3 linked regions of the Homo sapiens genome follow. The protein of the gene in region 2 purifies or fractionates together with the protein of the main gene of each other region. This does not show direct contact. Each region holds a gene or a part of one and is shown on either strand. Other genes may lie near its edges.

Region 1 (3,650 bases), on a different chromosome or scaffold from region 2:
AATACAGCACCTGCTTCAAGAAAAAAACCTCAGTGTGATATAAAGCTACACTTTTAAATTTGATATGCCTTTAAAGTATGTGTATATGAACATATATACATATATACATAGAAAGATAGGCCTAGAAAATTTACTGAATGAAAAATTTTAATATTGGTTACCTTGAAGGGTAGAATTTGAAGAATTAATGGGGGTGGGAAGAAGCACTTTTACTTTTCCCCTTATACCTACTATCTATATTGTTGAGTTTTTCAACAAGTAACTATTTTGTAATAATTTTATTATTTTCTAATTTTTTGAGATGGAGTCTTGCTCTGTTACCCAGACTGGAGTGCACTGGTATGATCTTGGCTGACTGCAGCCTCCGTCTCCCGGGTTCAAGAGATTCTCCTGCCTCAGCCTCCCAAGTGGCTAGGATTACAGGCGCCTGCCACCATACCCAGCTAATTTTTGTATTTTTAGTAGAGACAGGCTTTCACCATGTTGGCCAGGCTGGTCTCAAACTCCTGACCTCAGATGATCCATCCGCTTTGGCCTCCCAAAGTGGTGGGATTACAGGCGTGAGCCACCGCGCCCGGCCACTTTTGTAATAATTTTAAAAGAGGGCCGTCACACACACACATACACACACAAACACACATATACACACACATTCATTCTTACGACAAAAATTGAAAACCATGTCTCACACAATCTTTTCTTTAGAAACTGTATTTTTATTTCGATTTGCTAAAAAAATTAAAAGACCACAATTCTAAAATTAAAATTTAAAAATTGGTTTTTCGGTCAGGCACAGTGGCTTACAACTTGTAATCTCTGCATTTTTGGAGGCCCAGGCAGAAGGATCCCTTGAGGCCAGGAGTTCAAGACTAGCCTGGGCAACATTTTTTTTTTTTTAAATCAGGTGGAGTGGTGGAGTACACCTCTAGTTAGACCTAGCTCTTTGGGAGGCTGAGGCAGTAGGATTGCTTGAGCCCAGGAATTCGAGGTTGCAGTGAACTATGATCATGCCACTGCATTCCAGCCTGGGTGACAGAGCAAAAGCCCATCTCTAAAAATAAATAAATAAATAAAAATAGGCTGGGTGTGGTGGCTCACACCTGTAATCCTAATCTCAAAATAAATAAATAAAAATTTAAAATAAAAACCATTTTTTAAAGTGGTTTTTTTTTTTTTTTTGGAGATGGAGTCTCACTCTGTCACCCAGGCTGGAGTGCAGTGACGCGATCTCAGCTCACTGCGACTTCTGCCTCCCAGGTTCAAGCAATTCTCCTGCCTCAGCCTCCTGAGTAGGCTGAGATTGCAGGTGCGTGCCACCACGCCCACCTAATTTTTGTTTTTTAGTAGAGATGGGGTTTCACCATGTTGGTCTGGCTGGTCTCAAACTCCTGATCTTGTGACCCACCCACCTCGGCCTCCCAAAGTGCTGGGATTACAGGCGTTAGCCACCGCACCAGGCCTAAAGTGGTTTTTAAGAAATTTTTAACCTAACTTCTATTCTGAACATGGATACATTTCTTAATAGGATTCAATGCAGTGCTAGCTCTTCTAATCAAGGGCTTCGATAGCTAAGAAACATGCTAAGAATGCCTGAAGAAATACGAAGCAGGTATTTACCCCAATGTTTAAAATAACAAAAGGGCCAGGTGGGTGACTCACGGCTGTAATCCCAGCACTTTGGGAGACCTAGGCGAGCAGATCACCTGAGGTCAGGAGTTCGAGACCAGCCTGGCCAATATGGTGAAACCCCCATTTCTGCTAAAGATAGAAAAATTAGCCAGGCATGGTGGCACGCACTTGTAATCTCACTACTGAGGCAGGAGAATCACTTGAATGCAGGAAGCAGAGGTTGCAGTGAGCTAAGATCGTGCCAGCCTGGGCGACAAGACTCCATCTCAAAAAAAAAAAAAAAATGTACTGAAAGATGTGAGTCCATTCCTCTAACCAAAAGGTCTTTTGCTTGGCCAGCAAGAAAGAGTAGCTTGTTTTTTCTCAGCTCTTGGCTCTGATATTAAATATAAAGAGGTCCTTAGAGGGTCTACTCCTCTGTACACAAAATGTAGAAGACCAACTAATTCTAGAGCAAAAATACTAGGGCTCCACATTTCTTATTTCTCACCTAATCCTGCCCCATTAGAGCAACAAGACAAACTTCACTCCCAAACTACACACCAATTCATCATCTTTTTGGATGTCTAGGTACTTGTTTCTAAAATAATTTATTTTTTTTTTTTTTTGAGACAGAGTCTCTCTCTGTCACCCTGCCTGGAGGGCAGTGGCGTGATCTCGGCTCACTGCAACCTCTGCCTCCTGGGTTCAAGCGATTCTCCTCCCTCAGCCTCCTGAGTAACTCAGATTACAGGCGCCCTCCACCAAGCCCGGCTAATTTTTTGTTTTAATAGAGACAGAATTTTGCCATGTTGGCCAGGCTGGTCTCTAACTCCTGACCTCAGCTGATCCACCCGCCTTGGCCTCCCAAAGTGCTGTGATTACAGGCGTGAGCCACCATGCCCGGTGGTTATAAATATTTAGGAAAAATGAAGGCCAGGCATGGTGGCTCACACCTGTAATCCCAACACTTTGGGAGACCAAGGTGGGAGAATCACTTGAGGCCAGAAGTTTGAGACCAGCCTGGCCAACGTGACAAAACGCTGTCTCTACCAAAAATATAAAAATTACCTGGGAGTGGTGGTGGATATCTGTAATCCCAGCTACTCAGGAGGGTGAGACAGAAGAATCGCTTGAACCCAGGAGGCGGAGGTTGCAGTGAGCCAAGATCGTGCCACTGCACTCCAGCCTGGGTGACAGAATGAGACCCTGTCTCAAAAAAATAAATAAAAATAAACAAAATATTTAGGAAAGATGAGACGGAGGATTTTAGTATTATTCATCAAATGCCAATTACATGAGTATTTTTTGAAGAACACTGTTACCTTTTCACACTGAAAATTCAAAGGCAATAATAATAAAAGAAGACAGCTCATCTTGTCAGACAGAAAAAGAAAAGGGAAAATTTTTGCTTGGCCAAAACAGGTCATTTTATTCACAAAGGCACAGACTATACTCTACCACACATACTATAAAGACTAGATACTCCAAGAATTTCCTCTCTATGTGATATGGGAGAAACAGGACCCAAAAAAAATTTCCTGCTTACACAGATTAAGAAAGCATCTATACACCCACTAAGCATCATCTTAGATTAGGCTAAAGTGGGTATCCTAGAAACTTCCATTCCAAAAATGAGGTCTACATGTACTCTTAACCTGTAAATCCTTTTAGGCACAGAAAACATAAGTAAACAGGAGAATATGGGGCTCTTCTAACATTAGGCACCACTAAGTGGGTGTAGGAATCACCAACACATGACTTCTACAATAAGCTTCAAAAATACAAAAGGCATGGATTCTGCCCATAGCTTTAATTACATGGTATGGAGACTCCAAAGACCATTACACATACACACACACACACACACACACACACACACACACACACACACACACAGACATGCACAGTCAGAAAGAGAGAGAGACAAATTTATGACTTTGGGGGCAAACTAGTGCTCTACCTGTGAAGAAATTTAAGACTATTACTTATAAAAAAGCAAATGGTTGCCAGGCACAGTAGCGTGTGCCTATAGTCCCAGC
Region 2 (3,750 bases):
AAGGGATCCTTTCTCTACTGTCCCAGTTGCGGAGGGCGTTCAGGGCGAGGAGGTCCGCTGGAGCTCTAAGATGACACCCCCGAAGGCCTCGTTTGCTGACGCCTTTCTCGGCCACCGCAGGCTTCAGCATAGTCGGATACTGGTCCTCCAAAACGAATCCGGAGACAAGTCCCGCAGGTGCCTAGAGCTTCAGTCCACACGCCACCCCCGTCCCTCACATTCCCGGTTATGAGAAAATTTTGGGGGTGCCTCGACCAGGAAATAGCGAAAAAGAGATCGGCAGACGGGAGAATGATAGCAGCTGGAGGAACGGCATTTCCCTCAAACTAGGGAAGAACGCACAGAGCTGGAGCCGGAGGCACCCAGGGAGTTGGGAGCAATCCCAGGAAATTCAGTCACCCGGCAATTGAGGGAAACTCCCTGTTCACAACTTCAGCTAGCCAGGGCAAATACTTGGGGTGCAGCGCTTTCATTTATTTGATTTTACTTTGCAGGGAAATCTAACACAGAGGTTACCCTGAACTCTAAAAGCTAGGGCCTAGCGCGCATCCGCGTTCTGACTCGCCGGCCCCGGGGCCCTCCTGAGATTAATCTGCGTTGCCCGGACTCCCACTGCCAGGGAAGGTCCAGGCAACTGGCTCTGGGGCTATTCCTAGCCCTCTGGGCTTGGCTCTATGGCGCCAGGGCAGCTCCAGGGTGTTGTCGAAAGTCTGGACCGGGAAGGGCATGGGTGCGGATTCCCCACAAAGGGAAAGCAATGCAGCGGGCCGGCAGGAGACGTACAAACGTAAACGTGCGACGCTAGCTAGGCGCAGCGGGCCTTTCAGATTTTGCTATTTGTGAAAAACAAATTGCGCCTCTGAAAGTAACCAACTCTAGGTCTATTTCACATCACCGACCTCCCTGTCTCACTCCCCCTCCCTCCACTACACACACCCAAACCCACACCCACCCACAAACACACAAACCGGCAGTGACAACAACCACCCATCCTTCAATAACAGCAACCAGAGACAGAGGAGAAAATAAAAAGCTGAGTTTCTTAGGCGTGGGGGTGCAAAACAGCCAGGCTCCTGCCTACTGCCCCTGCTCCCGTAGCTCACAGACCCATAATCCTGCATTTCTCTAACAAGTTGTTTATGGAGTTGCTTCTCCATTTGCCTACATCCCAAAATTCACCCCTCCCGGGTTTCTTCTGCCCCCTCCTGAGTCCCGGCCTGAAGGAGGGGGAGGGACGCGGGTGCGGGCGCGGGTGGGGGAGGGCGGACCCGACGCACAGGGCCAGCGCCGAGGCGCCCCCTCTCCGCCAGCGGTTGACGCCCCCGGATTATTTATCCGCAAAGTCCCGCGCGCGCCCATTGGGCCGAGGCCCGAGTGTCAGCGCGAGTCCCGGCTCGCCATTGGCTCCGCACACGTGCGGCCCTGACTCACGTGCTTCCGGTTTGAAGGCAAAAAGTGTGCCTGGGTGATTTTTTTTTTAAGCGAGAGAGTTTGTGCAAAGATCCGAGCTGTCAGAGATTTGAAAAAAAAAAAAAAAAAAAAAAAAAAAAAAACAGCCCGGCGCTGGCGGAGACGCGCTCTCCCTGCAAAAAAAGCAAAGGCGATTAAAGGCGCTGCCAGCCTCACGCTCTGGGCACAGCTGAGCGTGACACTCGGGGAAGTCAAACCCCTCACTACTGCCTAGGAAGATGGCTAGACTTTAAATACTATTTTTTTCCCTTTAAGAAAAAAATTATTGGAGCTTTTTTTCTTGCTTTCTTTTTCCTTTTCTTTTTCTTTTTTTCCTTCATTTTTTTGGCCGTGGCTTACTCCCCATTTAAATCAAATCATTGAATCTGGTTGCAGAAAGAAAAAAGAAATAGCCAAGTGTCTCCATATCTGGATGTCTACAAATTAGAGAGGGAGAGACAGCGAGATCTATCTGCTAGATAAGAACGAGCGATCCAGGCCAGACGCCTGAGCTTTTTTCCTGCACCCGCCCCGTGCCTTCGCTGAGGCTTCGCCTGCCTCCTTCCTCCGCGCACCCCCACGGGCCGCTGGCAAAGTGGGGTGGGGAGCGAGGCGGTGGGGGCGGGGGCCGGCGCGGCGGCCGGGGCGGCGGGGCGGCCGAGCATGGAAGAACAGCAGCCGGAACCTAAAAGTCAGCGCGACTCGGCCCTCGGCGCGGCGGCGGCGGCGACTCCGGGCGGCCTCAGCCTGAGCCTCAGTCCGGGCGCCAGCGGCAGCAGCGGCAGCGGCAGCGATGGAGACAGCGTGCCGGTGTCCCCGCAGCCTGCGCCCCCCTCGCCGCCCGCGGCGCCTTGCCTGCCGCCCCTGGCCCACCACCCGCACCTCCCCCCACACCCCCCGCCCCCGCCGCCTCAGCATCTCGCGGCGCCTGCTCACCAGCCGCAGCCAGCGGCCCAGCTGCACCGCACCACCAACTTTTTCATCGACAACATCCTGAGGCCGGACTTCGGCTGCAAAAAGGAGCAGCCGCCACCGCAGCTTCTGGTGGCTGCGGCGGCCAGAGGAGGCGCAGGAGGAGGAGGCCGGGTCGAGCGTGACAGAGGCCAGACTGCCGCAGGTAGAGACCCTGTCCACCCGTTGGGCACCCGGGCGCCAGGCGCTGCCTCGCTCCTGTGCGCCCCGGACGCGAACTGTGGCCCACCCGACGGCTCCCAGCCAGCCGCCGCCGGCGCGGGCGCGTCTAAAGCTGGGAACCCGGCTGCGGCGGCGGCGGCGGCCGCGGCGGCAGTGGCGGCGGCGGCGGCGGCCGCAGCAGCCAAGCCCTCGGACACCGGTGGCGGCGGCAGTGGAGGCGGCGCGGGGAGCCCCGGAGCGCAGGGCACCAAATACCCGGAGCACGGCAACCCGGCTATCCTACTTATGGGCTCAGCCAACGGCGGGCCCGTGGTCAAAACTGACTCGCAGCAGCCTCTCGTATGGCCCGCCTGGGTGTACTGCACACGTTATTCGGATCGTCCATCCTCCGGTGAGTACCCAACTCCGGGCTGCGCCATGCCTTCTGGCCCCGCGGACCGCCCCAGAACGCCAAGCTGCGGCGCTAGGGAGAGCAAACCCGGCCTCGGGTACTCCAGTCTCTCACGCCTGCTTCCTCACCCCAGTTCCAGTCACAACCGAATGTTCATCCAGCTATGCGATCCTGGCCTCTGCGGCCACCACCCGAGAAGCTACAGCTCGTGGCACAGGAGGCTCGGGTCTCGATTCTTTGATTTTGAACTCTGAATCCCTGGGGCCTTCTTTGTCTCTTATCTTTATTATTCTTAGGAAAAGTACATAGTCAGTGATTTTCTTTCCAGGGTGTTTAGATAAGGCAGGAAGGTGGGCCTAGTGATGTGTGTCTGAAATCCCACCAGCCTGATCGTCCGAAGGCCAGATTTGACCAGAGAAGGCCTTGTTCAGAAAAATTATATTCACTGTGTGTCCTTACAGACACAAACACCATCTCGATATTTTCTGCGGAGAGACCGTTTACATTGATAAACATGGGAAACACAGGAAGACAGGGAGGAAAGCGTCTGAAAGCCGTCCCTCTCCCCCGGCTGGGTAGCGAAAAGAGTCTGACCCGGGTGGGTAGAAACCAGGGAAAGGCAGTTGCCAAAAAGGTGGGTGCTGGCAGCCCCTGGTTTTCTGGAGCTGAAAAACAGTGGGAGAGGAGAGAAAACAGGTCAGGCTCAGGCCAGGAAGCGTGTCCAAGGGCATGAGAGCCAGTTTCCTCCGTAGCTTCTCCGCGGAACGGTTCCCGCA
Region 3 (3,650 bases), on a different chromosome or scaffold from region 2:
ACCAATGCAGCACGGCTCCAGAAACTCCTCTGAATCACCTTGCTAACTTTTAGACATCACTGTTCTGGTTAACCTATTCATTTTATTTTTTAAAATATTTATTTTATTTTTAGTGGAGACAGGGTCTCACTATTTTGCCCAGGCTGGTCTCAAATTCTTGGGCTCAAGCGATCTGCCTGCCAAGGCCTCCCAAAGTACTGGAATTACAGGTGTGAGCCACGTATTCATTTGCAAGGCAGTGTATGAGGAAAAAAAGGAATGGGGAATTAGACTCCTGATTTGACATGCACAAAAAAGTTAGAATCAGTGACTTGCCCCAGATTCAAGTGTCCCAAAAGCAACGGAAATTGACTCTTTGGTAAATATATCAGCTGCTAGAGATGTTTTAAGGTGTCAGAGACTTAAATACTTTAGTTCCTATGGTTCACATGTCAATCACCCAGATAAAAGAGGATTAAGACCAAGGAAAGTAAATATACTAAAATGAGGTACCTGGCTTTGGAAATCTAGCAGAATTTAAGAAAGAGGAGAGCTGACTCTAGGATGAGTATTAGCAATGATGTCCTGGTTTGAGAAGGTCAGGGTTTGTTTAAAAAATGCACTTTTTTTTTTTTTGGAGATGGAGTCTTGCTCTGTCACCCACGCTGAAGTGCAGTGGCATGATCTTGGCTCACTGCAACCTCCACCTCCCTGGTTCAAGTGATTCTCCTGCCTCAGCCTCCCCAGTAGCTGGGACCACAGGAGTGTGCCATCATGACGGGCCAATTTTTGTATTTTTAGTAGAGACAGGGTTTCACCATATTGGCCACGCTGGTCTCAAATTCCTGACCTCAAGTGATCCACCTGCCTCGGCCTCCCTCCCAAAGTGCTGGGATTACAGGCGTGAGCCACTGCGCCCAGCCTTATTTTATTTTTTCAGTAGCAAAGCTCTGCAACCAAGACACACAAAAACAAAATAACTATTTTAATTCTGGTTGAATTTTATAATATGAAAGTCCATATAATATAGTAAAAGAGTAGTCTATTAGAAATCAGGCCAGGTGCAGCTATAATCCCAGCACTTTGGGAGGCCAAGACAGGCAGATCACTACAGGAGTTTGAGACCAGCCTGGCCAACAGGGTGAAACCCCATGTCTATTAAAAAATACAAAAATTAGCCAGGTGTGGTGGCATGTGCCTGTAGCCCCAGCTACTTGGGAGGCTGAGCACAAGAATCACTTGAACCAGGAAGGTGGAGGCTGCAGTGAGCTGAGATCGTACCACTGCACTCTAGCCTGGGTGACAGAGCAAGACTCTGTCTCGAAAAAGAAAAAGAAAACAGACAACTCAACCTTGATGGCTTCCATCTATGGAGCACTTAGTGTATGCAAGGTATTGCACCAAATATTTTAAATGTACCTCATTTATCCTTCAGGATAACCTTAAAGGTACATAATATTATTGGCTCCATTTGAAACAGAGGCTCAGAGACTATCTAGTCCAAAGTTATACAGTTGTGGAGTTAAAATTTGGATCTAAATCTGTCTCCATAGCCTATGCTCTTCTTAACCACACCCTACTATTTCCTCAGTTTAATTGTGCATAACATTGGGTTAGTCTGGAAATTCTACAAATCTGTGACAGCATTCTTCAATCACCACAGTCAGAGCCTATACCTACCTCCACATCAAAGTTGGTCATGTCGGCCTTCCACTTAAAATAATCTTGAACAGCACCCCCAAAATCTCTTGCAGCCTCATTTGAGGTAAAGCAATGTTTCTCTCCTGCCCTGTTGCATGTGACTCTAAACTTCAGCACTTGAGGCTCAGTTTCTTCTTTTGAGCTTTCATCAGTCTCATCTTTGCAAGATGCCAAATCATCACCTATTAATGTTGATACATCCTCTTTGATGGCTGGATTTTCATAATAATCTAAGATATGAGAATCTAAAGCATGGCTAGTGAACTCTTTTTTAACATTTCTCTGATCGATTTTGACTTCTTGTCCATTATTAATCTTCTCTTTACTTGAATTCTGATTTATCTTTTTGCGCTTTGCTTTTTTCTTTTTAAAACTGGCATTAATTTTCCACACTTTTAAGGGGTTTGACCATGGGAGTTTTCCAGCCAAGTCTTCAAAATCCTTTAGAACTTCTTCCTGTAAAGGACAGAGAAAGAAATTCATTCATTTCTCACCACTATAATCAAACAAATAAACCTCTACTTTGCTTATGGACAGTTGGTATCCGTGGGGGACACTGGTTCCAGGACCGCCAAAGACACCAAAACCCAAAGATGCTCAAAAGTCCCTCATATAAAATGGTATAGTGTCTACATATGACCTACACACATCCTCTCAAGAGTAACTTAAATCATCTCTATCTTACCTATGATACCTGATACAATGTAAATGCTATGGAAATAGTTGTTATACTGTATTGTTTGGGAAATAATGACAAGAAAAAAAGTCTGGGCTGGATATGGTGGCTCATGCCTGTAATCCCAGCACTTTAGGAAGCTGAAGCAAGTGGATCACTTGAACTTAGGAGTTTGAGACCAGACTGGGCAACATGGCAAAACTCTGTCTCCACAAAAAAATACAAAAATTAACTGGGCATGGTGGCACGTGCCTGTAGTCCCAGCTACTCAGGAAGCTGAGATGGGAGGACTGCTTGAGCCTGGGAGGTCAAGGCTCCAATGAGCTATGATCACGCCAATGCACTCCAGCTTAGACAACAGAGCAAGATCTTGTCTAAAAAAATAAATCTTTTACAAAAGAGAATGAACACTGACTACAATATTCTTAAGGAAAGAAAGCCTAACTCCAAATTTTATACCCAAACTATCAGCCAAATATAAAGGTGAAAGACAAACATTTCTGAACTCATGCCATTCAACAGATACAAATTATAACAAAAGGACAAATAATGTGCCTATAATCTATTTAATTATATCACTAAAATGAAAACAAGTGTAGGGATTGTGATTATAAAGCAGAAGGTAAATGTTACAAACTGGCATGTAAATGGGCATACTGATACCCTCATCTCTTACACCCAGAGGTCAAAGGATAGAAGTTAAAGCTGATAAATAAAATGTAAGTATATTTAAAAGTTTAAGGGTGAACACTAAGAAAAATAACTGAAAAATAAAGGAAAAAAGTATAAATATGCCAATTTCATCATTGCTTTTAGCAGGGATTCAAAAAATACCGTGTATATATGGTAGATAAGGTAGATAATATCAAATTGTAGTTATAAAGGTAACAGCTAGAACACACACACATAAACCTTCCAAACTATTAGAAAACACAGGCATATGAAAAAAGTAAAGACATAATGTAAAGATTTTTCAAATTAAGAAAAAACAAAAAGTATGAGCATGACAAAACTAAGACTAAACAGTTGTCATTATCAATAAGTATCAATGGGATAAACACAAAGATGACACTCAGTTTGAATATGTACAAGAATTTACATAGTGTATTTGTTGCACCACTGTAATAGCAAAAGAATGTGAAAAACCCTCATGCCCTAAAATGGGACTGGTTAAATTATTATACAGCCAAACAATGGAGTATACGCAGCCAATTCCAGCAATGATACTGCCAGGATCTCCAACATATAGGTTGAACATTCCTAATCTCAAAGTCCAAAATCCAAAACCTAAAAT

The links.
Region 1: the proteins of EN1 (region 2) and ANKHD1-EIF4EBP3 purify together in Homo sapiens (affinity purification with mass spectrometry, with the first as the bait; one large-scale study listed by BioGRID). This does not show direct contact.
Region 3: the proteins of EN1 (region 2) and THUMPD3 purify together in Homo sapiens (affinity purification with mass spectrometry; one large-scale study listed by BioGRID and IntAct). This does not show direct contact.

The regions. Positions count from the first base shown.
Region 1 is NC_000005.10:140,404,825-140,408,474, reverse strand, and holds part of ANKHD1-EIF4EBP3 (ANKHD1-EIF4EBP3 protein), read right to left. Parts: intron 1-3,650. UniProt on the Homo sapiens protein: May play a role as a scaffolding protein that may be associated with the abnormal phenotype of leukemia cells. Isoform 2 may possess an antiapoptotic effect and protect cells during normal cell survival through its regulation of caspases.
Region 2 is NC_000002.12:118,845,530-118,849,279, reverse strand, and holds the start of EN1 (homeobox protein engrailed-1), read left to right. Parts: upstream 1-1,631; 5' UTR 1,632-2,112; coding exon 2,113-2,974; intron 2,975-3,750. UniProt on the Homo sapiens protein: Required for proper formation of the apical ectodermal ridge and correct dorsal-ventral patterning in the limb.
Region 3 is NC_000003.12:9,369,546-9,373,195, reverse strand, and holds part of THUMPD3 (tRNA (guanine(6)-N(2))-methyltransferase THUMP3), read right to left. Parts: intron 2,137-3,650; coding exon 1,660-2,136; intron 1-1,659. UniProt on the Homo sapiens protein: Catalytic subunit of the THUMPD3-TRM112 methyltransferase complex, that specifically mediates the S-adenosyl-L-methionine-dependent N(2)-methylation of guanosine nucleotide at position 6 (m2G6) in tRNAs.